Regions from separate parts of the Homo sapiens genome. Here regions 1 and 3 are each linked to region 2. Evidence: fine-mapped expression QTL. A gene starts in region 2. Each other region holds a variant in brackets. All regions are shown on one strand. Distances are from middle to middle.

The links. PIP is the estimated chance that this variant, and not a neighbour inherited with it, causes the effect.
Region 1: its variant is fine-mapped to the expression of UGDH in B cells (Schmiedel 2018, PIP 0.95).
Region 3: its variant is fine-mapped to the expression of UGDH in whole blood (INTERVAL, PIP above 0.99).

The regions. Positions count from the first base shown.
Region 1 is chr4:39,580,567-39,588,748 of GRCh38, reverse strand. All of the region lies in intron 2 of SMIM14 (small integral membrane protein 14), which reads left to right. It overlaps UGDH-AS1 (UGDH antisense RNA 1), which reads right to left. Exons shown (of 5, transcript NR_047679.1): 3 at 690-826. Among named protein-coding and RNA genes, the nearest start is that of SMIM14, 54 kb to the left of the region's middle. The variant G/TTG (reference allele first, on the strand shown) is at 3,956.
Region 2 is chr4:39,524,257-39,532,413 of GRCh38, reverse strand. It overlaps UGDH (UDP-glucose 6-dehydrogenase), which reads left to right and starts at 4,975. Exons shown (of 12, transcript NM_003359.4): 1 at 4,975-5,131. UGDH-AS1 (UGDH antisense RNA 1) reads right to left here and starts at 4,575. Exons shown (of 5, transcript NR_047679.1): 1 at 4,076-4,575; 2 at 284-445. RefSeq lists an enhancer at 4,091-4,150 and silencers at 4,531-4,830, 5,081-5,260.
Region 3 is chr4:39,491,333-39,499,514 of GRCh38, reverse strand. It overlaps UGDH (UDP-glucose 6-dehydrogenase), which reads left to right. Exons shown (of 12, transcript NM_003359.4): 12 at 1-760. Among named protein-coding and RNA genes, the nearest start is that of UGDH, 32 kb to the left of the region's middle. The variant G/T (reference allele first, on the strand shown) is at 3,744.

The DNA of each region.
Region 1 (8,182 bases), 56 kb before region 2:
CCCATACTTAGCTTTTATTTCCTACTTTCCTAGATGAATTGGTGTGTATCTTCCCAGATCTTTTTAAGAAATATGTTTTTAGATACTATGGAATATGTATATTTTCCTCAATTTAATAATATTTTGCATTTTTCATGTTGCTATGAAAGCTTTTTTAATCGTGTGATTAACTTTTGAGTTTTATTTTAGTCAATAAGGAAATTTCAGTGGACTACTTTGTTTCAAATCTTAATCCTTTTTTTAAATCAATATGCAGGCACTGGAAGACATAAAAGGCACATAGCCTTCTATAATTAGCAATACAATTGGTCTTACCAATTTTGAACTGTGTATTTAGGATGTATAGTTACGTTTTATTTATTTATTTAGAATAGAGATGGGGTCTCTCTATTTTGCCCAGGCTGGTCTCAAACTCCTGGCCTCAAGCACTCTTCCCTTCTTGACCTCCCAAAGTGCTGGGATTACAGGCGTGAGCCACCACCCTCAGCCGACAGTTTCTTGTGTATTGTTCCCATTATTATTATTGTATAACAAATTTCCCCAAAACTTAGTTCCATAGAACAACCATTCATTAAGCTGACAGACTGTGTCTGGAATTCACACAGCTTGTCTGCTGATCATTGTTTGTGTTCTTAGCTAGAAGACATAGAAGCTGAGGGCAGGAAGTATCTGGAAACTTGGTTACTCACTGTCTGATAGTTGATGCTGGTGAGTAGCTGGAACCTTAGCTAGTATTGTCAGTTAGAATGTCTACATACGGCCTTTTCATGTGGCTGCTTGGCTTCCTCATAGAATGGTGGCCTGGTTCCAAGGGAGAACATCCCTCCTGAGAGGAGATGGGAGAGGGAGAGAACTTAGTGTAAGAAGTCATAACACCTTTCCTATATTCTTGGGTGTAGCAGTCACAGGCCTGTCCAGGTTCAAGAGGAGGGCAAACAGATTTCTCTCTTTCCTTCCTCCCTCTTTCCTTTCTTCTTCCTTCTTCCTCCTTTCTTCTTTGACAGGGTCTTGCTCTGTCACCCAGGATGGAGGGCAATGGCTTGACCATAGCCTGGGCTCAAGCGTTCCTCCTGCCTTGACCTCCCAAAGTGTTAGGATTACAGGCATGAGCCACAGAGTCTGGCCAGATTTCACCTCTCAATGGGGAGTGGCAAGATTCTAGAAGAGCATGTTTGGCTTTAATTCTGTGGCTGTTTTTGGAAAGTATAGACACACATCTTTCTAGAATTTTTTTTTTTTTTTTTTTTTTTTTTGAGATGGAGCCTCACTCTGTCTCCCAGGCTGGAGTGCAGTGGCGCGATCTTGGCTCCTGCAAGCTCCACGTCCCTGTTTCATGCCATTCTTCTGCCTCAGCCTCCCGAGTAGCTGGGACTACAGGCACCCGCCACCATGCCTGGCTAATTTTTTTGTATTTTTAGTAGAGACGGGGTTTCACTGTGTTAGCCAGGATGGTCTCGATCTCCTGACCTCGTGATCCACCCACCTCGGCCTCCCAAAGTGCTGGGATTACAGGCGTGAGCCACCGTGCCTGGCTCCTTCTAGAAATTTAATATGCATATACGTATGTATATAGTTTATATTTTTGTTTTACATAGAAGGGATCATAGTATATATACATGCTATGGACTAAATGTTTGTGTACCTTCCCCCCAAAATTCATATGTTGAATTCCCTAATCCCCAATGTGCTAGCATTTGGAGGTGGGACCTTTGGAAGGTAATGAGTTCATGAGGGTAGAGGCCTTGTGATAGGATTAGTGCCCATATTAGAAGAGACAGAAAAGAGATGATCCTCTTCTCTACCATGTGAGGATGGAGGAAGAAGACCTCTATCTACAAGCCAGTAAGAGGACCCACACTGGGAACCAAATCAGCTAGAACTTTGATCTTGGATTTCCCAGCCTTCATAGTTGTCAGAAATAAATGTTTGTATGTAAGCTACCTGGCCCATAGTATTTGTTATTGCAGCCCAAACTAAGACAAAAAGTGTTACTAAAAAGTGGGATGCTACTATAACAAATACCTAAAAACGGGTAAGTGACTTTGCAACTGTGTAATGGATATAGGCTGGAAGAGTTTTTAAGTGCATGCTAGAACAAGCTGATATTTGCTGTGAGGGACTGTTGGTAGAAGTAAGGGCATTAAAGGTGATTTTGGAGAGAGCTCAGCAAGAAGAGAGGAGAATGGTAGAGCAAGCTTCCATCTTACAGAATACATAAATAATCATGTACAGAATTTTAGTAGAAAATAAAGGCCATTCTGATATGGTCTTAGAAATGAAGAACGTTACTGGACAATGGAGAAAAGGCAATCTTTGTTACAAAGTAGCAAAGAACTTGGCTGAATTATGTTTGTGTTCTAGTGTTTTCTGGGTGGGAGGTAGAACTTGTGAGTGATGAAGTTGGATACTTAGCTGAGGAGATTTCTAAGCAAAATGTTGAAGGAATGGCTTGGTTCCTCCTGATTGTTTATAGTAAAAATTGAAAAGAGGGAAGCCAATTGAAGATGGAATTATTAAGCAAAAAGGAACCACAACTTAAAGATTTGGAAAATTCTCAGCCTGTCCACATAACAAAAAGTAAGAAAGTTCACAAGAGAACACTAAAGGTATGGTAGACTAACCACTTGATAAGATTTGTGTGGGTGAGAACTGCAGAATCAAATCACCAGCCCCCAGCAGGAAACTGCCAGGTTGAACTAAAAGGGAGGGAGACTGGATGGAATGAAGGAGAAATAGAGGTCGGAGTTCTTTTATTTTACAGGACAAGACCGTAGAGCTATTGGGCTGCAAGTGTACATTATTCTTCAAGGCAAGGGAAGAATGATCTGGACATTATTCTTCATGACAAGGGAAGAGCGACCTTAACAGCAATTCAGAGATGATCAGGGCTGCCTCTTTGGTTTCAAAGGGGGTGGACCATCCCTTCTGTATCAGCACACCGGTTGGCCTCTGCCCAAAGCTTTTTGGTCATCAAAGCCTTGGGGTTGGTGCTACCTGGAGCCTTGCAGGACAATACATTTCTGCAACTTTTTTTTTTCCCACTTCGTACATCTTCACTTTAATCTTTTGATATTAGCAAATCAAAGTCAGGCTCCTTTTTAGCAGTGTCATAGTATTGGAATTCTCTGTCTTTTCTTTTAATAATAGAAGTAGGCTGGGCGCAGTGGCTCATGCCTGTAATCCCAGCACTTTGGGAGGCCAAGGCGGGCAGATCACCTGAGGTCGGGAGTTCGAGACCAGACTTACCAACATGGAGAAACCCCGTCTCTACTAAAAATACAAAAATTAGCTGGGCATGGTGGCGCACGCCTGTAATCCCAGCTACTCAGGAGGCTGAGGCAGGAGAATCACTTGAACCTGGGAGGTGGAGGTTGCAGTGAGCCAAGATTGCACCACTGCACTCCAGCCTGGGCAACAAGAGCAAAACTCTGTCTCTAATAATAATAATAATAATAATAGAAGTAATATGTGAATATCTAGACCATGAAAGCCTGAAATAATGTAGAAATATGGAGCAAAATGTAAACATGTCCCTTTCTATTGCTCCCCACTCATCCATCCCACTTCATGGCCACTATTACTTGTTTTGTCAGAGGTCACATTAAGTTTGTGGACCTTTTAGTCACATTTCTAGGCACTTATATACTTTTATATATAATTGAAATAAACTGTTTCATAGGGTATGGCTATGCATTTACTGTTATGTCTTTAATGACAGTAAATTGCATCATTTTTGGTTCAATAAAGTAAACTCAAATTCAGAATGTGCTTTGTAGAGCTGGGGAAAGTATATGAGAAAATCTGGAGTGGTTGCTCAACCTGCATATCATTTAGGCAAAGTAGCCCAACCTATTAGTGTTAGACATTCAAAATATATTTAGATTTGCCTTTAACCTGATTATTTGTAGTCTTTACAAAAATTTTTTTTTCTTTTTTCTTTTTTTTTTTTTTTTTT[G/TTG]ACAAGGTCCTGCTTGATTACCCAGGCTGGAGTGCAGTTGCATGATCTTGGTTTACTGCAACCTCTGCCTCCTAGGTTCAAACCGTCCTCCCACCTCAGCCTCCCAAGTAGCTGGGACTATAGATGTGTGCCACCACACCCAGCTAATTTTTGTATTTCTTGTAGAGACAGGGTCTCCCTATATTGCCCAGGCTGGTCTTGAACTCCTGGGCTCAAGCAATTTGCCCACCTAGGCCTCCTAAATTATTGGGAATACAGGCATGAGCCACTGCGCCCAGCCTGTTTGTCTTTTTTTTTTTTTTTTTTTTTTTTGAGACAGTGTCTTACTCTGTCGCTCAGGCTGGAGTGCAGTGGCAAGATCTCGGCTCACTGCAAACTCCACCTCCCAGGTTCAAGCAATTCTCCTGCCTCAGCCTCCTGAGTAGCTGGGATTATAGGTGCACACCAGCATGCCCGGCTAATTTTTATATTTTTAGTAGAGACAAGGTTTCACCATGTTGGCCAGGCTGGTCTCAAACTTCTGACCTCAACTGATCCACCTGCCTTGGCCTCCCAAAGTTCGAGGATTACAGGTGTGAGCCACTGTGCCTAGTCCAAATTATTTTCATTATGGAGTACTGCATAGAGATGTTACTTAATCAAAATGTGATCAGATGTAGTATTAGGTTCTAGCTGGTTTCCCAGTTGAAACACTGGGCTTCTGCAGAGATGTGATCATCCAGGAAGACTTGAATTGAACGTACTGTATTTGTATTTCATCATTAAAAAAAATTCTCCTATTGTAGTTTGGCTATGTGTATCAAAACTTACAGTGTGCATACTTGTGTTCTAGCAATTCTTCCCTGAGGAGATTAATCAGGTGTGTAAGAATGTATTTATAGGAACATATACACAGCATTGTTTTTCATATATAAATTTGGAAATGATGAAATTAAATGAAATACTGGTGCAGCATTGAAAGATAAGTTTGAGCTATTTGGAGGCATCAGTTTGTGACTGATTGGTAAGTGTGGCAGAAAGAGCAAAATAACTCAGGGTCTTATCTTGTAAAATCTGTGCCATCATATATACTGTGTTAGAAAAATGTGTACACGTATGTGGAACACATTAACTAAAATGGTAACAGAATGGTTATCATTGGATGGTGGGATTTTGTCCATTTTGTTCACTGCTTTATCCATAACAACTAGAACAATAGGGAGCCACATTAGAAAGAAGGTCATGTTTGCGTTATTTTTATAGGGGCTTTATGTTTTATTTTCCATGTTGGGCTCCTTCTAGATCTTTGGATCTGTAATACAGCCTCCCTCGTTTTGTGACTATGTTTCCAAACCCCAATTTGGAATGAATGACCTGAAGCTGATTATCGGAATACTTAAAACCAGTTAGAATAATAGCCCAGGCAAGTTGGCTCACACCTGTAATCTTAACACTTTGGGAGTCTGAGGTGGGAAGATTGCTTGAGCCCAGGAGTTTGAGACCAGCCTGGGCAACACAGTGAGACCTTGTCTCTAAAAATAATAAAATAAAATAAAAAATTAGCCCAGTGTGGTGGCATGTGCCTATAGTCCCAACAACTCAGGAAGCTGAGGTGGGAGGATTGCTTAAGCCTGGGAGGTCGAGGCTGCAGTGAGCCATGATTGTGCCACTGCACACCAGCCAGGGCAACAGAGTGACACCCTGTCTCTTAAAAAAACAAAACGGCTGGATGCGGTGGCTCACGCGTGTAATCCCAGTACTTTGGGAGGCTGAGGCGGGTGGAACATCTGAGATCAGGAGTTCAAAACCAGCCTGGCCAACATGGCAAAACCCTGAACTACTAAAAATATAAAAATTAGCCGGGTGTGATGGTGGGTGCCTGTAATCCCAGCTACTTGGGAGGCTGAGGCACGAGAATTTTGGACCCGGGAGGCGGAGGTTGTGGTGAGCTGAGATCTTGCCACCACAATCCGGCCTGGGTGAAAAGAGCGAGACTCTGTTGCAAAAATAAATAAATAAAAATAAAAAATTAAAGGTGAAACACAAATGCCATTTAAATGAATACTGAAGTAGAATTTAGCTACTGGTGGACCAGTACAACTGGAATATATAGCTGGTCTTTTTCTATAAGACCCTTTCTTTTTTTTTTTGAAATGGAGTTTCACTCTTGTTGCCCAGGCTGGAGTGCATTGGCACAGTCTTGGCTCACTGCAACCTCTGCCTCCTGGGTTCAAGCGATTCTCCTGCCTCAGCCTCCCAAGTAGCTGGGATTACAGCCGTGCACCACCACACCCAGCTAATTTCGTATTTTTAGTAGAGACAGGGTTTCACCATGTTGGTCAGGCTGGTCTGGAACTTCTGACCTCAAGTGATCCACCTGCCTCGGCTTCCCAAAGTGCTGGGATTACAGGCATAAGCCACCGTGCCCGGCCAAGACCCTTTCATATTCAAAAAGAATCCACTTCTTCCCCTTTTTTCTCTTATGAATTATTTGCTGCAAAGGAAAGATCCAGTTAAATACAAGTTATGGGGGAAGCCAGACAACACAGATACTGTAGGCAAAGTGATAATAACCTTTAGGTTTCAGAGGGTACTCTTCTTCCAGTGTGTTGGTTATAGTTTATCTAAGAAAAGACATTTGCTAGACCAGGCGCGGTGGCTCATTCCTGTAATCCCAGCACTTTGGGAGGCCGAGGCGGGCAGATCACCTGAGGTCGGGAGTTTGAGACCAGCCTGACCAACATGGAGAAACCCTGTCTCTTCTAAAAACACAAAACTAGCTGGCTGTGGTGACACATGCCTGCAATCCCAGCCACTTGGGAGGCTGAGGCAGGAGAATCACTTGAATCCAGGAGGCGGAGGTTGCAGTGAGCAGAGATCGTGCCATTGCACTCCAGCCTGGGCAACAAGAGTGAAACTCAGTCTCAAAAAAAAAAAAAAAGAAAAGACATTTGCTGGGCATGGTGGCTCACGCCTGTAATCCCAGCACTTTGGAAGGCCCAGGTGTGTGGATTCCTTGAGCTCAGGAGTTCAAGACCAACCTGGGCCACATGGTGAAACTCCGTCTCTACTAAAAATACAAAAACAGCCAGGTGTGGTGGTTGTGCGCCTGAGGTTCGAGCTACTCCTGTGGTCCCAGCTGCTCAGGAGGCTGAGGGAGGCTGAGGATCGTCACTTGAGCTTGGTGCTGGGGTAGGGGGTGGGTGGGGGTGCAGAGGTTGCAGTGAGCCTAGATCACACCACTGCACTCCAGCCTGGGTGACAGATCAAGACCCTGTCTCAAAAAAAAAAAAAAAGAAAAAGAAAAGGAAAAAAACGAAAAAAGAAAAGACACCTACTGAGTTAAAGTTAACCAGTGGAAATCTGTGTGTGTGTCTTTTAATTCTGATGATCCTAAGAAGTTATGATAATTAAGTAGCCTGCAAAAACAAAAGCAAAAGTATGATTTCAGGTTCTGGTTAAAGTGAAGAGACAAACTGTGTAAAACTCCATTGTTAACAGGCAGATCTGCTCATTAATAGAGAAGGAACTTAAACATTTGAATTTTAGAGGGAGAATATAAAATGTTTAGGCATAAAATATTTAAAAAACATTTTGTTGGACAGTATAGAGAAAAATGCACAATATAAATAATACTAAAATCCAAAATATTAAAGACTAAGGTATTTTAAAGGTTTTTTTCCTTCTTAAGCAGAAAGGCCAAATTGAAGATTAAGGATAAGTTCTAGGATGATGTACAATAAATTATGCTCATTAGGAAACACTAGAGTTCTGTTAAGACACTTTCTTAATTAAGCACGTGATATTAGCTATAATATTGCAATGATGTGAAAAAATTCTGTGGGCCATGAGCTGAGTTCTTTATGTACATTAATATTTTATTTATATATTTAATTATATCACTTAATCCTCATGGTGAATTTAAGGTTGATAATAGGTTGTGTTTATCTTTTTCATAGTTTGAAACTTTGCCTTAGAAACAGAGACAGGGGCTGGGTGCGGTAGCTCACACCTGTAATCCCAGCACTTTGAGAGGCTGAGGTGGGCGGATCATGAGGTCAGGAGTTCAAGACCAGCCTGACCAACATGGTGAAACCCCGTCTCTACTGAAAATACAAAAATTAGCTGGGCCTGGTGGCACACACCTGTAATCCCAGCTACTTGGGAGGCTGAGGCAGGAGAATTGCTTGAACCTGGGAGGCAGAGGTTGCAGTAAGCCAAGATCGCACCACTGTACTCCAGCCTCGC
Region 2 (8,157 bases):
CAAAGAGAGAGAGCTTATGCAGAGGAACTCCTTTTTTTTTTTTTTGGAGACAGAGTCTTCAATTTTGCCCAGGCTGGAGTGCAGCGGTGCAATCTCGGCTCACTGCAACCTCCTTCTCCCAGGTTCAAGCAATTCACTCTGCCTCAGCCTCCCTAGTAGTTTGGATTACAGGTGCCCACCACCATGCCCAGCCAGAACTCTTTTAAAAACCATCAGATCTCATGAGACTTATTCACTATCACAAGAACAGCACAGGAAAGACTTGCCCCCATGATTCAATTACCTCCCACTGGGTTTTAAGATGAGATGTGGGTGGGGACACAGCCAAACCATATCACAGCTACTGTGAAAGCAGAGTTGGAGGGTCACTTCAGCCTGGGAGGTTGAGGCTGCAGTGAGACGTGTTCATGCCAATGCATTCCAGCCTGGGTGACAAAGTGAGACCCTGTAAAAAAAAAAAAAAGAAAGGAAAGAAAGGCTTATGTTTTACCCAAACAATACCTTACTATGACTGGCTCTGTGTCCCCACCCAAATCTCATCTTGTAGGTCCCATAATTCCTACATGTTGTGAGAGGGACCCGGCAGATGATAATTGAATCATGGGGGCAGGTCTTTCCCGTGCTGTTCTTGTGATAGTGAATAAGTCTCATGAGATCTGATGGTTTTAAAAATGAGAGTTTCCCTGCACAAGTTCTCTCTTCTCTTGTCTGCTGCCATGTGAGACATGACTTTCACCTTCCACCATGATTATGAGGCTTCCCCAGCCATGTGGAACTGTAAGTCCAATAAACCTCTTTCTTTTGTAAATTTCCTAGTCTTGGGTATGTCTTTATCAGCAGCATGAAAAAGAACTAACACAGTAAATTGGTACCAGTAGAGTGAGGCACTGCTAAAAAGATATCCAAAAATATGGAAGCAACTTTGGAACTGGGTTAACAGCCAGATGTTGGAACAGTCTGGAGGGCTCAGAAGAAGACAGGAAAATGCAGGAAAGTTTAGAACTCCCTAGAGGCTTGTTAAATGGCTTTGACAAAAATGCTGATAATTATATGGACAATGAAATCCAATCAGGTGGTCTCAGATGGAGATGAGGAACTTGTTGGGAACTGGAGCAAAGGTGACTTTTGTTATGTTTTAGCAAAGAGGCTGGCGGCACTTTGCCCCTGCCATAGAGATTTGTGAAACTTTGAACTGGAGAGAGATGATTTAGGGTATCTGACAGAAGAAATTTCTAAGCAGCAAAGCATTCAAGAGGTGACTTGGGTGCTGTTAAAGGCATTCAGTTTTTAAGGGAAACAGAACATAAAAGTTTGGAAAATTTGCAGCCTGACAACATGACAGAAAAGAAAATCTCATTTTCTGAGGAGAAATTCAAGCTAGCTGTAGAAATTTGCATAAGTAAGGAAGATCCGAATGTTAATCACCAAGACAATGGGGAAAACGGGCATGTCAGAGATCTTCATGGCAGCTCCTCCCATCACAGGCCTGGAGGTTTAGGAAGAAAAAATGGTTTTGTGGGCCGGGCCCAGGATCCCTCTGCTGTGTGCAGTCTAGGAACTTGGTGCCTTGTGTCCCAGCTGCCCCAGCTGTAACTAAAAGGGGCTGAGGCATAGCTTGGGCTATTGCTTCAGAGGGTGGAAGCCCCAAGCCTTGGCAGCTTCCACTTGGTGTTGAGCCTGTAGGTACACAGTAGTCAAGAATTGAAGTTTGAGAGTCTCCACCTAATTGATACAAAAAGCAGATAAACAGGCCAGGCATGATGGCTCATGCCTGTAATCCCAGCACTTTGGGAAGCCAAGGCAGGTGGATCACCTGAAGTCAGGAGTTTGAGACCAGCCCGGCCAACATGGCAAAACCCTGTCTCTACTAAAAACACAAAAATTAGCGTGATGTGGTGGTGCGCACCTGTAGTCCCAGCTATTTGGGAGGCCTAAGCAGGAGAATCTTTTGAACCTGGGAGGTGGAGGTTGCAGTGAGCTAAGATTGCACCACTGCATTCCAGCCTGGATGACAGAGCGAGACTCCGTCTCAAGAAAAAAAAAACAAAAAGCAAAAAACAAAAAACCAGATAAACAGAGAAAAATTGAACTGCCATTAGAGAAGACGGGGAGATGTGGGAACCCAGAGCCTTGTCTTTAACTTCCTACTGATTCTCTATCCTCACAGATTTCTGACACACTACCAGAGGATTCAGGGCTCCATGAAACATAATTTGAAAATAACTAGCCTACCTTGGCAGTTCTCAAAGTTTGTAGTATCAAGACCCCTTGGCATGTTTAAAAATTGAAGACTCAAAGAAGTTTTTTTCATGTGGATTGTAACTATTGGTATTTACCATATTAGAAATGAAAACTGATAAATTATATATAAAAGATTAATTCCTTAAAATTGACAATAAGCCCATTACATGTTAACATAAATATCATATTTTAATGAAAAATTACTATATTTTAAAAACAAAAGATAAGATTGGCATTGTTTTACATTTTTGTAAATCTCTAATATCTGACTTAAAAAACAGCTTAATTCTATTTGCTTTGATAGCACATTATAGTCTCCACAAAACTTCATTGTACACTTCTGAGAGAACAAGAGTGAAAAAAGCAAGTAACACATGAAAACTTTTTGACCTCATGGATCCCAGAAAGAACCTCGGAGATTGTCTACAGTCCCCAGCTCACATTTGGAGAACCTCTGTCCTAAATCCAAAGGTCCATTCTAGCTGGCACTGAAAATTGACTTAATTTCTGAAATCCTATTAACCGTTTTGAAGAGTCTGATTCTACCAAAATACTAAAAAAGAATGTGAGGTGAATACTAAATAGAAAAATGTTGAATTCAAAATGAAGGGACTAAGATAAGTGGTTTTTATTACAAAGCAAACTGTATTAGATAACTTAAATCTATGTATGTTCAAAAAGATGTACTTGTCATATCTAGTGCAATTACTTGTTTACATATCTCTTCTACCCAACCTGTGAGCTTTGCAAGAAGGAAATGAGTCTTTTTTGTTTGGTTATTTTTCTGAGACAGTGTCTCGTTCTGTTCCCCAGGCTGCAGGGCAGTGGTGTGATCTCGGCTCACTGCAACAGGGAGCCTCCTGAGCAGCTGGGATTACAGGTGCCCACCGCCTCACCCGGCTAACTTTTTGTATTTTTAGTGGAGCCGGGGTTTCACCATGTTGGCCAGGCTGGTCTGGAACTCCTGACCTCAGGTGATCCGCCCGCTATGGCCTCCCAAAGTGCTGGGATTACAGGCGTAAACCACCGTGCCTGGCCAAAGGAATTGAGTCTTAATCCCTTTTGCATCTTCAGTCTTTAGGATAACGTCTGACACACAACAGGCATTAAATATTTGTTGGATGAATGAACTGAACTGCATAGAATGCAGAAAGCCTACATATACTGGCCAGGCACAGTGGCTCACACCTGTAATCCCAGCACTTTGGGAGGCCGAGACGGGCGGATCACCTGAGGTCAGGAGTTTGAGACCAGCCTGGTCAACATAGCAAAACCCGGTCTCTATTAAAAATATAAAAATTAGCCGGGCATGGTTGTGGGCGCCTGTAATCCCAGCTACTCGGGAGGCTGAGGCAGGAGAATCGTTTGAATCTGGAAGGAGGAGGTTGAGGTGAGCCGAGATCGCACCACTGCACTCCAGCCTCGGCGACAAGAGGGAGACTCCGTCTCAAAACAACCAACCAACAAGCCTACATATCCTGCCACACGTGCTACAATCCACAGCAAACTGTTTCATCCACATTCAACCACTTTCTTAAAGTCACCATCATGATCCTATCAAGAAAACCGTAATTTATATGGTATTTTAATGTGCCTTTATAAATTACTAATCACTTTCTTCATGATGTATGTTAAAATGGCTTATGTCACCTGATGTAATCCTTAATGAGGGAAATAAAAGGCCATGATTATGCCTGGCTTTTTTTCTTATATGTTAGATTTGAGTGTTAAAATGACCTCGAAGCGGCGAAAGAAAGGAACGGAACTGCCCTCCACATTAAAAATGAGCAGGCTCCATAGGTTAATTTTACTCTTCCTCACGCACGGCACTTACATGTTGCAAACTCTCTGCTCCACAGCACGCACAGACATCCCAAATCCCGGATTGGGCCTGAGGAACATCTCTGCAAAGAGCGCCAGGAGGGCGTGGGGGTCCCGCCTCTCTCGCCAGGGACCAGGGAGTGGACACTCACTGGTCCAGTCATGAGGAACTCAGCATCCTCCTGACGGGAGGCGCCTCTTTCCCAGAAGCGGTGGGTCAGGAGGAATCTGACTAAACCCTGGGTTGCCGGCCCGGAGGGCGCGGTTGACCCCGGGGCCTCGAGGTTGTGGGCGAGGAGTAATCCGCCCGCCGAGACCGACCCGCAGATCCAGGAGACCGAAACCCGAGGGCGGCGCTCCAGGGTGCTGAGGAGACCGGAAAGGCGGCCAGGACCTTCCGGTCGCCTCGGCCCACCACCCACCCAGTGTCCGCGCAGCCCTAAAGCCTGGCAGACGCGGAGCGCACGCGGCCTTTGCCTCGGCCAGGACAGGGCAGCGGGGAGAGGGCTGCTAGACAACAATTCTTGACCCCTCCTCGACCCACGACCGCCAGGTAGGCGCGCAAAGCTCCTACACCTGCGGCGCGCCCCCGTCCCCTGGTCCAGCGGACACGCCACGCACGCAGCCCCGCCCAGCGCCGCTCGCGGTAGGGGCGGAGCCGCTGAGCTGGCCAAAGCGGATTTGCCCAGCTAGGCCAGGGGCGGGGCAGGCCCTCCCAGCCAGGACCAGCCCCAGTCTCCCCGCCCCTGAGCCGTGAAGGAAATAGGGACCTGGCCCTGGGCCTTGTGTAGCGGGAGGGGGAGCTAGGAAGCAGCTGAGGGCAGAATCCAGGAGGGCCTGGCTGCGGGGGAATGAAGCCTCCGCCTTCGCAGGCAAAAGCCTTTAAATACGGGCTCAGGCCCGGGACTCAGAGTGTAACGCGTGGCAGCCTGAGGGAGGGGCGTGCGCCGAGAGGGAGCTCAGATCGAGCGGGGCGCGGGTGGAGAAGCTGCGGCGGCGCGGCCCGTAGGAAGGTGCTGTCCGAACGATCGGGATAGGAGCGGTCCCTGCGCTTGCTGCTGGGAAGTGGGTAAGCGCCGCTCCCAGGCTGGCCCCGCCGCCCGGGCGGGATGCTCCCAGGTCTGGGCGGGATGTGGAGGGAGCGGGGCTGGGGTGTGCGCGCTGCTCCCGGTCGCTCGCTGCGCTGGGTCCCGGGCTTCCCGTCTCACGACCTTCGTCTCTTTGGGGCTTAGGGCGGGAACCGCATTTTGGAACTGCTGTCCTGGGGATGTGGTCGTCTGGGCTTCTTATTCAAGACTCGTGAGTCTTCCAGCCCCTTCTCTTTCTGCCTTTACCCACTTTCCTGACTTGGATGAGATTTCCCTGCCGCCTCCAAAGCCGAACGCCCACCACAGGAAGCGGTTCTCTCGTTGGGGACCTCATTTTGGCCGCAGAGTCGTAGTCTTTTGTTTGTGTTTAAGAGTCTGCTCACCTGAGGGGCTCCTGCTTTTCTCATGCCGCCCCTCTTAAGAAACCAAAGAGAAACGAAGCCAGAAAGCCCTCTTGAGAGCAAAATACTAAGACTGCCGTGATATCTGTCCGGGATGTCCTGGAATCCATTGTTGGCCCCCTACACCACAGAATTGCTCTGTTTGATGTCGGGGAAGGCCTTTCCTGGGTGCCTCGGGAGACCATGTTTGTGTGAGATCTTGAAAAATTATACGTCCTATAAATATATAGGAAGATAACTTAGTAGGGTTAGGAATTCTAGTATAGAGAAAAGAGGGGTTCGCTGGTAGGGATCTATTCATGGGCATACAGAGCAGTAGCTGTCTATCGACAGACCTCAAAGACACAGTGAGCCTTTGAGTTTCTTCAAATCCCTTAAGAAATGGAGAACAGTAGTCTTTCTTCAGGGGGGTTCTGGAAATGAAAGAGCTGACTGTCTGCTCTGAGATGTGCTTATTAGTGGCCAGGATCCAGTTTAAGGTAAGGGGTAGACAACCCTGATTGAAAAGATCTCATTTCTTCTCCCGTTGCTGTACTCCTTTTTCTAACAAAATCTATAACTGGATAAGCATAATCCATCTTCCTTCTTGTTTACTTCCACAGCTTTACATGATAACCCTTAGACATAAAATTAATACCGGCTTTCTTACTGATTAAATATTTTTCTCTGGTCAGGCATCTTTTACTGTTTAATTTCTGGAAATGATTAAAATGTGTGAAGCTGATGTATCCAACTATAATGCCCATCGTTAGCTCCTGGGTACCTATGCAAAATATGCTGTAGAGAGCTGGGGCTAGAAGGATTATATTCCGTTTAGATTGTAGTAGGGCATTTGTTATTTGTTAGTGACCCCTTCTGGGTTGGAATGTTTATTTGAATTTATGAAATTTTACATGAAGAGTAGTTTTGGAACGGTTTGGTTTGTTGTGACTCTCCCAAAATACAGAGGTAAAAACTCATTTCAAAATAACCCATTTAATAAGGAAACACTCCTATGTCTCTGACAGCAGAATAGAGGGCCAGAGGGTACATAAAAGTAGAAATAGAAAATGGGGGCCGGGCGTGGTGGCTCACGCCTGTAATCCCAGCACTTTGGGAGGCCGAGACGGGCGGATCACGAGGTCAGGAGATCGAGACCATCCTGGCTAACATGGTGAAATCCCGTCTCTACTAAAAATACAAAAAAAAATTAGCCGGGCGTAGTGGCGGGCGCCTGTAGTCCCAGCTACTCGGGAGGCTGAGGCAGGAGAATGGCATGAACCTGGGAGGCAGAGCTTTCAGTGAGCCGAGATTGCGCCACTGCACTCCAACCTGGGCAACTGAGCGAGACTACGTCTCAAAAAAAAAAAAGAAAAAGAAAAGAAAATGGGGCTGGGCGCAGTGGCTCACGCCTGTAATCCCAGCACTTTGGGAGGCCAAGGTGGATGGATCACCTGAGGTCAGGAGTTCGAGACCAGCCTGACCAATATGGTGAAACCCCGTCTCTACTAAATATATAAAAACTAGCTGGGCGTGGTGGTGGGCACCTGTAATCCCAGCTACTCGGGAGGCTGAGGCAGGAGAATTGCTTGAACCCAGGAGACGGAGGTTGCAGTGAGCCGACATGGTGCCACTGCACTCCAGCCTCGGTGACAGTGAGACTCCGTCTCAAAAAGAAAAAAGAAATAGAAAATGGAGTTGGCAGACATCTGTGTCATGCAAAGTGTGTCACTAACACTATGTCAAACTCCATGTTAAAGCTTATTGAAGATTTTATTGAAACTTCCAAGTGAGCATTTATTTGGACTTGCACAGATTGTACATCAGCCTTTTCATTGATTCTCCCATTGTCATCGGTAAGCCGTATTTCATGGGAAATAGCAAGGCGAGAATACCCAAAATAAAGCTTGTGTAAAACACATCCAGTTCTGTGATACAAGTTCACCTGCCATCAGTAGTCTATCCCAGCTGATGTATGTAAAGCAAGTTGAAATGTGGTCTCACAATCAAGGCAGATAAGAAGTAACTCTGGGGAAACATGCTGAAGTTCTTTAGGTAACTCAAAAAAAGAACTTGGCCAGATGCGATGGCTCACACCTGTAATCCCAACACTTTGGGAGGCTGAGGCAGGTGGATCAACTGAGGTCAGGAGCTTGAGACCAGCCTGGCCCACATGGTGAAAACCTGTCTCTAGAAAAAATACAAACATTAGCTGGACATGGTGGCGGACACCTGTAGTCCCAGGTACTTGGTACTTGGGAGGCTAGGTGGGAGACTCACTTGAACCTGGGAGGCGGAGGCTGCGGTGAGCCCAGATTGTGCTGTTGCACTCCAGCCTGGGCAACAGAGTGAGACCTTGTGTCAGAAAAAAAAAAAAAAAGTTGATAGTATTCTGGTCAATTACTGCAAAAATACTATGATCGGCAATCTGAACTAAAGCTATTTACACAGAAGTCTTCATCTCAAAAAGAGACGCCCTTGTGGAGAGTTACTCATTCATTCAATTAATAATCATTGAGAGGCTGCTATTCTAGGAGTCAAGGATACAGCAGGGAGCAGCAGCAAATAACTGTTAGCCTGGCTGTGCCTTATTAAACTATGAACTCCTTAAGCCCAGGAGCTGCAAC
Region 3 (8,182 bases), 33 kb after region 2:
TAGGCCACACTTTAATATCACATTATAAAGGGAAGGACAGTCTTCATTCCTCCTGGTTATTGGTTTGTTTGTCATTAAAGATATATTTTGAATCCATGAAATTGCTATGCTAAACAGCCTTTACATGTATGGTCTGGTTAAAGTTCCTTTGTTCCTTTTGTTTTAATAAAATGTGTCACTGATTTTTTAGCTCAAAATCATCACTGTTAATTTCCAGTCACCCCAAATATGGTTAAAAGATTTTTTTTTTAATCATGAAGAGAAAATTAGTAGCATTTCTTTCTCTCCCCATTATTTATTGGTTTTCCTCACTAATCTTTTTTTTTTTAGTCCAAAAGCCAAAAATATTTATCTTGGTTTTACATTTTAATTTCCATTCTTAATTGTAATTTTTTTCTTTAAATAAGGAAACCAATATAATCTCATGTATAAAAACTTAAATATTTTACAAGTTACATATAGCATCATTCTAAAATAAGAATTTTTTTTGTTTTCTGTCTGCTTTTTTCTTATGTCTCTTGTTGAGTTTTATATTTTCAGTGGTTATTTTTGCTTGTGTTAGATCATTATTAAAATATATCCAATGTCCCTTTGATACTTGTGCTCTGCTGAGAATGTACAGTTTGCATTAAACATCCCAGGTCTCATCCTTCAGGAATTTTGCAGTTCAATGAGAAGAGGGAGACAAATATAAAGATGAGGACAGAAGCATCTCTACAGATGAAAATTACATAAATAAAACATTCTCCATCAACAACTATATGGGTGTAATTTTTGTCAATTCACAAGTAACTGAGTCATGACAGCCTGACATTAGATGGGAAAAAAATGACACCTCACTTTTTAGAGAAAATGGTATATCATTCTCTCAAATGATGCAACAAAGGGAGAGAATTTAGCAAATAAACATTGGCAAACTGTAGCCCCTGGGTCAAATCTGGCCAGCCATGAGTGAGCTAAGAATGGTTGTTACATTTTTACATGGTCATATGTTAAATGGTTTGACCAGGCATGGTGGCTCATGCATGTAATCCCACCACTTTGGGAGGCCAAAGAGGGAGGATCACTTAAGGCCAGTTTGAGACCAGCCTGGGCAACTTACTGCCTAGGCAATAAGTAAGACCCCATTTCTACAAACAAACAAAGCACAAACATTTTAAATGGTTATACAAATCCCTACATAATATCCTCAACTTTACCTCTTGGCTGGCAAAGCCTAAAATATTTCCTACCTGGTCCTTTAAGAAAGTCTGCATACCTCTGAAAGAGACAAATGCTAGAGTTCGAACATAAGGTGAGCCTTTACTCATAAGACTTTGAAGTGAGGATGAGTTTATTAATTAGAATTTGCTTTACATTTCTGCTTGAAAATATTATTGTATTCTGCTTAGTAATTTTATATTCTAGTAAAGGCATTGTAAGTCCAAAGATGTATGAAGATGTATGCTAAAGCAGATAGAATTAGGCACTTGTCCTGTCCAAATGAGGAATTTTTAAATTTTTAAATGGTTTTTTTTTCTATTTTTAGACATCTAATGCTATAGATTCAAACTTTTTCTACTCTTGTCTAGATATGCCAAATGCTGGCAAAAAATTGCTTTTGTTGTTGTTGTTGTTCTTTTTTTTTGAGACAGAGTCTTGTTTTATTGGCCAGGCTGGAGTGCAGTGGCACCATCTCGGCTCACTGCAACCTCTGCCTCCTGGGGTTCAAGCCACTGTGCCCAGCCTAAGAATTGCTATTTGGATGTTGCCGAATTTGTAAAAACACAGCAATAAGCAAAATCCTTTTGAACAAAGAAGTCCTGAGTTCATCTCATTGGTGGACTGAAGCAATTCTGTAGCAAATAAATCCTTTGAAAGAGCTCCAAAAAGAAGAAAAAAAGAAATAGGTACTTGTGCCGGGTGCAGTGGCTCATGCTTGTACTTTGGGAGGCTGAGGTGGGGGATCACCTGAGGTTAGGAGTTCGAGACCAGCCTGGCCAACATGGTGAAACCCCGTCTCTACTAAAAATACAAAAAAACTAGCCAGGCGTAGTGGCACGCGCCTGTAATCCCAGCTACTCAGGAGGCTGAGGCAGGAGAATCACTTGAACCTGGGAGCAGAGGTTGCAGTGAGCCAAGATGGCGCCATTGCACTCCAGCCTGGGCAACAAGAGCGAAACTGTCTCAGAAAAAAAAGAAAAGAAAAGAAAAGAAAGAAATAGGTACTTGTTTTAAATTGCAAGATGTTTCAATGCCTGGAACTGATAAGTAAACAATTATTGTAAGATATAATTACTGGCCGGGTGTGGTGGCTCATGCCTGTAATCCCGGCACTTTGAGAGGTCAAGGTGGGTGGATGCTTGAGCTCAGGAGTTCAAGACCAGCCTGGGCAACATGGCGAAACCTCGTCTCTAAAAAAATACAAAAAATTAGCCATGAGTGGTGGTGCATGCCAGTAGTCCAAGCTAACTGGGAGGCTGAGGTGGGAAGATCACTTGAGCCCAGGATGTCAAGGCTGCAGTGAGCCGAGATTGTACCACTGCACTCTAGTCTGGATGACAGAGTGAGACCCTGTCTCAAAAAAAAAAGAAAAAAGTTACTGGTAAATGGAGGAAAATGGGCAAAAGAGGGCTCATAGAGCCAGATAAACTTGCTGTTTGAAATGGGAGGAAAAACTCAGTAATTAGGCATGTAACTTAACAGCAATTTGAGACTTTCATGTGAAAAGTTGAAAGAAGGTGGTTAGTCTTTTTTTCTCTCCTCAACCAGTTAAAGACAATTGTTGTTTTTTTTAATCATACAAACTTTCAGTTTTTAAAAATATATATATTTAAATTTTTATACCTGATCCCTACCACCAGGAAAAGTTTCAATTTTTTATTAGCTAATATATTTTTGGTAGGGCAGAGGAATATTGGTAAGATTACTAACTGTACTTAAAATTGAAAATAATAGGCCGGGCGCTGTGGCTCACGCCTGTAATCCCAGCACTTTGGGAGGCCGAGGTGGGTGGATCACCTGAGGTCAAGAGTTCGAGACCAGCCTGACCAACATGGAGAAACCTCGTCTCTACTATAAATACAAAATTAGCCGGGTGTAGTGGTGCATGCCTGTAATCCCAGCTACTCAGGGGGCTGAGACAGGAGAATCGCTTGAACCCGGGAGGTGGAGATTACGGTGAGCCGAGATCATGCCATTGCACTCCGACCTGGGCAACAAGAGTGAAACTCCTTCTCAAAAAAAAAAAAAAAAAAAATTGAAAATAATATATGGACATGGTAAAAAGACATTCACATAGATACAAAAGGATAAACAAAATCTCTCTCCTACAATTTTCTCTCCTACAATTCCACTTAAGACTTCTTGGCTAAGCTACCTGAAAGCCTTATTTTTCCCATCTGTAAAACAGATAATCCATCTCCAACTCGAAGAATTGTTATAAAGATTACATGAGATGAATGTTTACACAAAGATCTTCTTGGCACAGTGACTGGCAGGCAATGAGCACTCCTGTTAGCACCATAACAAGCTGGTCCCACTGCACCAGAACCACGTGTAGGCTCTGGAATCACTAGAAGGACAGTAATTAACACTGAACATTTTGGACAGGCACTATGCAAAGTCCTTTAGGTGCATTTTCTCATCTGTTCCTCACATAAGTCTTTATTTCATTTCATTTTTTACTTCCCCATGTTATTCTAGGACTCATTTAAGTCTTTTGAGGTAAGTTCTGATCCTGTGATTCAGACTACAGGCAGAAG[G/T]CTCGGAAGATTTAGCAGCTTGCTCAGGGTCACACCTTAATAAGTGGCAGAACCAGAATTCAGGACAGACTATGTGACTTTTCTCTCCAGCTTTTAATATTAGTCATTCTGCTTCTCTGGATACATAAAGGTGCCCAGGTAAAAGTCATTCTTCTCAAATGCAAAGAATTAACCAGGCATCAGGCCAATACTTGTCATGCAGACTTAAGCCAATACTTTGTTATGCAGTACTTGTCACTGGTGCCTTATCTTCCTATTTCTCAAGAAAAAGCTAAAAATCTGGATTTGGTGGTGTGGTGTTTTTTGTTTTTTGAGACGGAATCTCTGTTGCCCAGGCTGGAGTGCAGTGGTGCAATCTTGGCTCACTGCAACCTTCACCTCGCAGGTTCAAGCTATTCTCCTGCTTCAGCCTCCTGAGTAGCTGAGATTACAGGCACCCACCACCATGCCCGACTAATTTTTGTAAAAATCTGGATTTTTATATAAAATCTCTCAATTTATAAGTGTTGGCACGATGTTTAAAAACAAATTTTTACACTACACACACCAAAATATCTGTGAAGGGTAGATCTAGATCAAAGGTTGCTAGTTTTTAAAAAAAGAAAACCCTAAATTCTGACATAATTTTAGATTTACAGAAAAGTTGAAAGAATGGTACAAAAATGCTGTATACCCTTCTTATTCACTAAATATTAATATTATATTTGCTTTGTTTTATCCTTCCTGTATACATCACACATAAAATTTATATTTATATAAATTTTTTTCCTGAATGATTTGAGATTAAGTTGCAAGGCCAGGTGCGGTGGCTCATCCCTGTAATCCCAGCACTTTAGGAGGCTAAGGTCAGGAGTTTGAGACCAACCTGGACAACATGGTAAAACCTCATCTTTACTAAAAATACAAAAAATTAGCCGGGCATGGTTGTGCGCACCTGTAGTCCCAGCTACTTGGGAAACTGAGGCAGGAGAATCATTCAAACCCGGGAGGCAGAGGTTGCAGTGAGCTGAGATTGTGCCACTGCATTCTAGCCTGGGTGACAGAGCAAGACTCTGTCTCAATAAAAAAAAAAAAAAAAAAAAAAAAAGAGAGTAAGTTGGAGACATGATTCCCTTTTCCCCTAAATACTTCAGGGTTATCTCAGTTTCTGTGGGTCAGGAATTCAGGAACAGTTTAGCCAAATGGTTCTGGGTCAAAGTCTGGTTGTAATCAAAATGTCAACCAGGGCTTTGGTCATCAAAAGGCTTGACTGGGGCTGGAAGATTGTCTTCCAAGATGGCTTGCTCATATGACTATCAAGTTAGTGCTGGCGGTTGACAGGAGGCCTCAGTTCTTTGCCAACTGGATCTCCTCATAGCACTGCTTGAATATCCTCATGACACAGCATAGCAAGTTGGCATCTTCAAGAGTGAAAAAACCAATAGAGGACAAGACAGAACCTCCAATGTCTTTTATTATCTAGCCTCAGAAATCATACCCCATCATTTCTATAATATCCTATTGTTTAACCAGATAGCTCTATTCACTGTCTGAAGAGACATGGATATCAGGAGGTGATAATCACTGGGAGCCATCTTGGAGGTTGGCTATTGGAGTTTTATTTCCCAAAAAATAAGGAAATAGGGCAGGTGCAGTGGCTAACACCTGTAATCCCAGCACTTTGGGAAGTCAAGGCAGGAAGATTGCTTAAGCAATCTGGCAAAACCCCATCTCTACCAAAAATACAAAAATTAGCCAGGTGTGGTGGTGCATGCCTGTGGTCCCAACTATTTGGGAGGCTGAGATGGGAGGATTGTTTGAGGTGGAGGTTGCAGTGAGCTGAGATCTCACCACTGTACTCCAGCCTGGGCGACAGAGTGAAACTGTGTCTAAAAAACAAAACAGGCCAGGAGCCGTGGCTCATGCCTGTAATCCCAGCACTTTGGGAGGCCAAGGTGGGTGGATCACCTGAGGTCAGGAGAGTTCGAGATCAGCCTGGCCAACATGGTGAAACCCCATCTCTACTACAAATACAAAAATTAGCTGGGCGTGGTGGCTGGCACCTGTAATCACAGCTACTCAGGAGGCTGAGGCAAGAGAATTGCTTGAACCCGGGGGCTGAGGCTGCAGTGAGCAGAGATTGTGCCACTGCACTCCAGCCTGGGTGACAGAGCGAGACTCTATCTCAAAAACAAAACAAAACAAAACAAACAAACAAAAAGATTGTTACTCCTTTAAACTTTCATCCACTAGTTTTAGCATCTACTAATGATTCCTGTCTGAATCAATTATTATAACAATGGTAGCTTCCAGTTTTTGATCAAGTTTGAATCTTGCTTTTACCACTTAGTAGAAATGGGACCTTGGCCCAGATAAGTCAACTTTCTTAAGTCAATTTCTTCATATATAAAGCAAGGATAATACAGTACACTTCAGAAGGCTGTTTGTGAGGATTACATTAGATAAGAGTGTAAAACACTTGGCACAGGGCGTGGTACACAGGAAACACTCCAGAAATGTTAGGGGGACTTTGTTGGTTGCCCATCCAGAGGATCCATTCCCCTTTCTTCCTTCCTAACAGAGCCCCAGTGTTCAGATGTTCATCCCCACCTGCTTACCTCACCTTCAGATCCAAGGATGGTCCGTCTTACTTTTGTTTAACAAATTTCCCTTGCCAATGATTTTTCTTGCCAATGATTGCTTCAGAAACAACCTTGTGACCAATGCTGGCGATTGAGAATTGAGGGGTAGTTTGTTAGTAAGGCTCCTGGGACACATTCCTGAAACAGCTACAAGGAAAGTTGCCCTCTCTTCTCCTTCTGGATGTTGTGGCTGGATATGATCCCTGGATAACAGGTATTTGGTTGTGACAGCCACAGCCACCATCCTACCAGACTGGGGTGAAGCCAACACCAAAGATGGCAGAGATAATAGAAGGAAAAACCTAGATCCTCGATTACTTTGTTGAGTCCCTGAATCAATGAACCTTGAAGACTACTTCCTGTTTGGTGACATAAATGTCCTCCTTAATGACACGATTGAATAGGACATTTCTTATTTGAAGCTGAAAATACCCTACTTTTAGAGGTATTGTATTATCATCATTATTAAGAAGAACGGCCAGTCACAGTGGCTCACGCCTATAATCCCAGCACTTTGGGAGGCCGAGGCAGGGGGATCACCTGAGGTCGGGAGTTCGAGAACAGCCTGGCCTACATGGTGAAATCCCATCTCTACTAAAAATACAAAAATTATCTGGGCATAGTAGTGGGCACCTGTAATCCCAGCTACTTGGGAGGCTGAGGCAGGAAAATCACTTGAACTCGGGAGGCAGAGGTTGCAGTGAGCCGATATTGCGCCATTGCACTCCAGCCTGGGCAGCAAGTGCGAAACTCAATCTTGAAACAAAAGCAAAAACAAAAATTAGCTGGGCATGGTGGCGGGCGCCTGTAATCCCAGCTACTTGGGAGGCTGAGGAGGGAGAATCACTTGAACCCAGGACGCAGAGGCTGCAGTGAGCCAAGATCGCACCCTTGCACTCCAGCCTGGGCAACAGAGTGAGACTGTCTCAGAAAAAAAAAAAAAAGAAGAAGAAGAAAAGAGAAGAACAAGCACCAATGGCTTTAGACAGAATAATGAAATAGCATCTCAAGGAAAGAATCAGAAGGTTGCACTGGGTGCGGTGGTCACACCTGTAATCTCAGTAGTATGGAAGTCTGAGGCTGGAGGATCACTAGATGTCAGGAGTTCCAGACCAGCCTGGCCAATATGGTGAAACCCTGTCTCTATTAAAAAAATACAAAAATTGGCCAGGTGCGGTAGCTCACGCCTGTAATCCCAGCACTTTGGGAGGCCAAGATGGGAGGATCACCTGAGGTCAGGAGTTTGAGACCAGCTGGGCCAACAGGGTAAAAACCTGTCTCTACTAAATATACAAAAATTAGCTGGGCATGGTGGCAGGTGCTTGTAATCCCAGATACTCAGGAGGCTGAGGCAGGAGAATGGCTTGAACCAGGGAGGCGGAGGTTGAAGTGAGATTGCGCCATTGCACTCCAGCCTGGGCAACAAAGCAAGACTCCATTTCAAAAAAAAAAAAAAAATTAGCTGGGGGTGGTGGCAGGCACTTGCAATCCCAGTTACTCAGGGAGGCTGAGGCAGGAGAATCGTTTGAACTGGGAGGCAGAGGTTGCAGTGAGCTGAGATCACGCCACTGCACTCCAGCCTGGGCAACAGAGCAAGACTCTATCTCAAAAAATAAATAAATAAGTAAGTAATCAGAAAGTTGCTAAAGGAAAATTGCTTGAACAGCAGCTGAAATGGAAGTGAACACATGGCCTCCAACCTCCTGGGGACACCCAGAAAGGGTCTGAGGTTCTACAGGAGGTATGGGATAGGGGACATGGAGGAGGGTTCAGTAAGACAACTCAGCTGGTGAAGGTAAGGTCTAATTGTAATGTGTA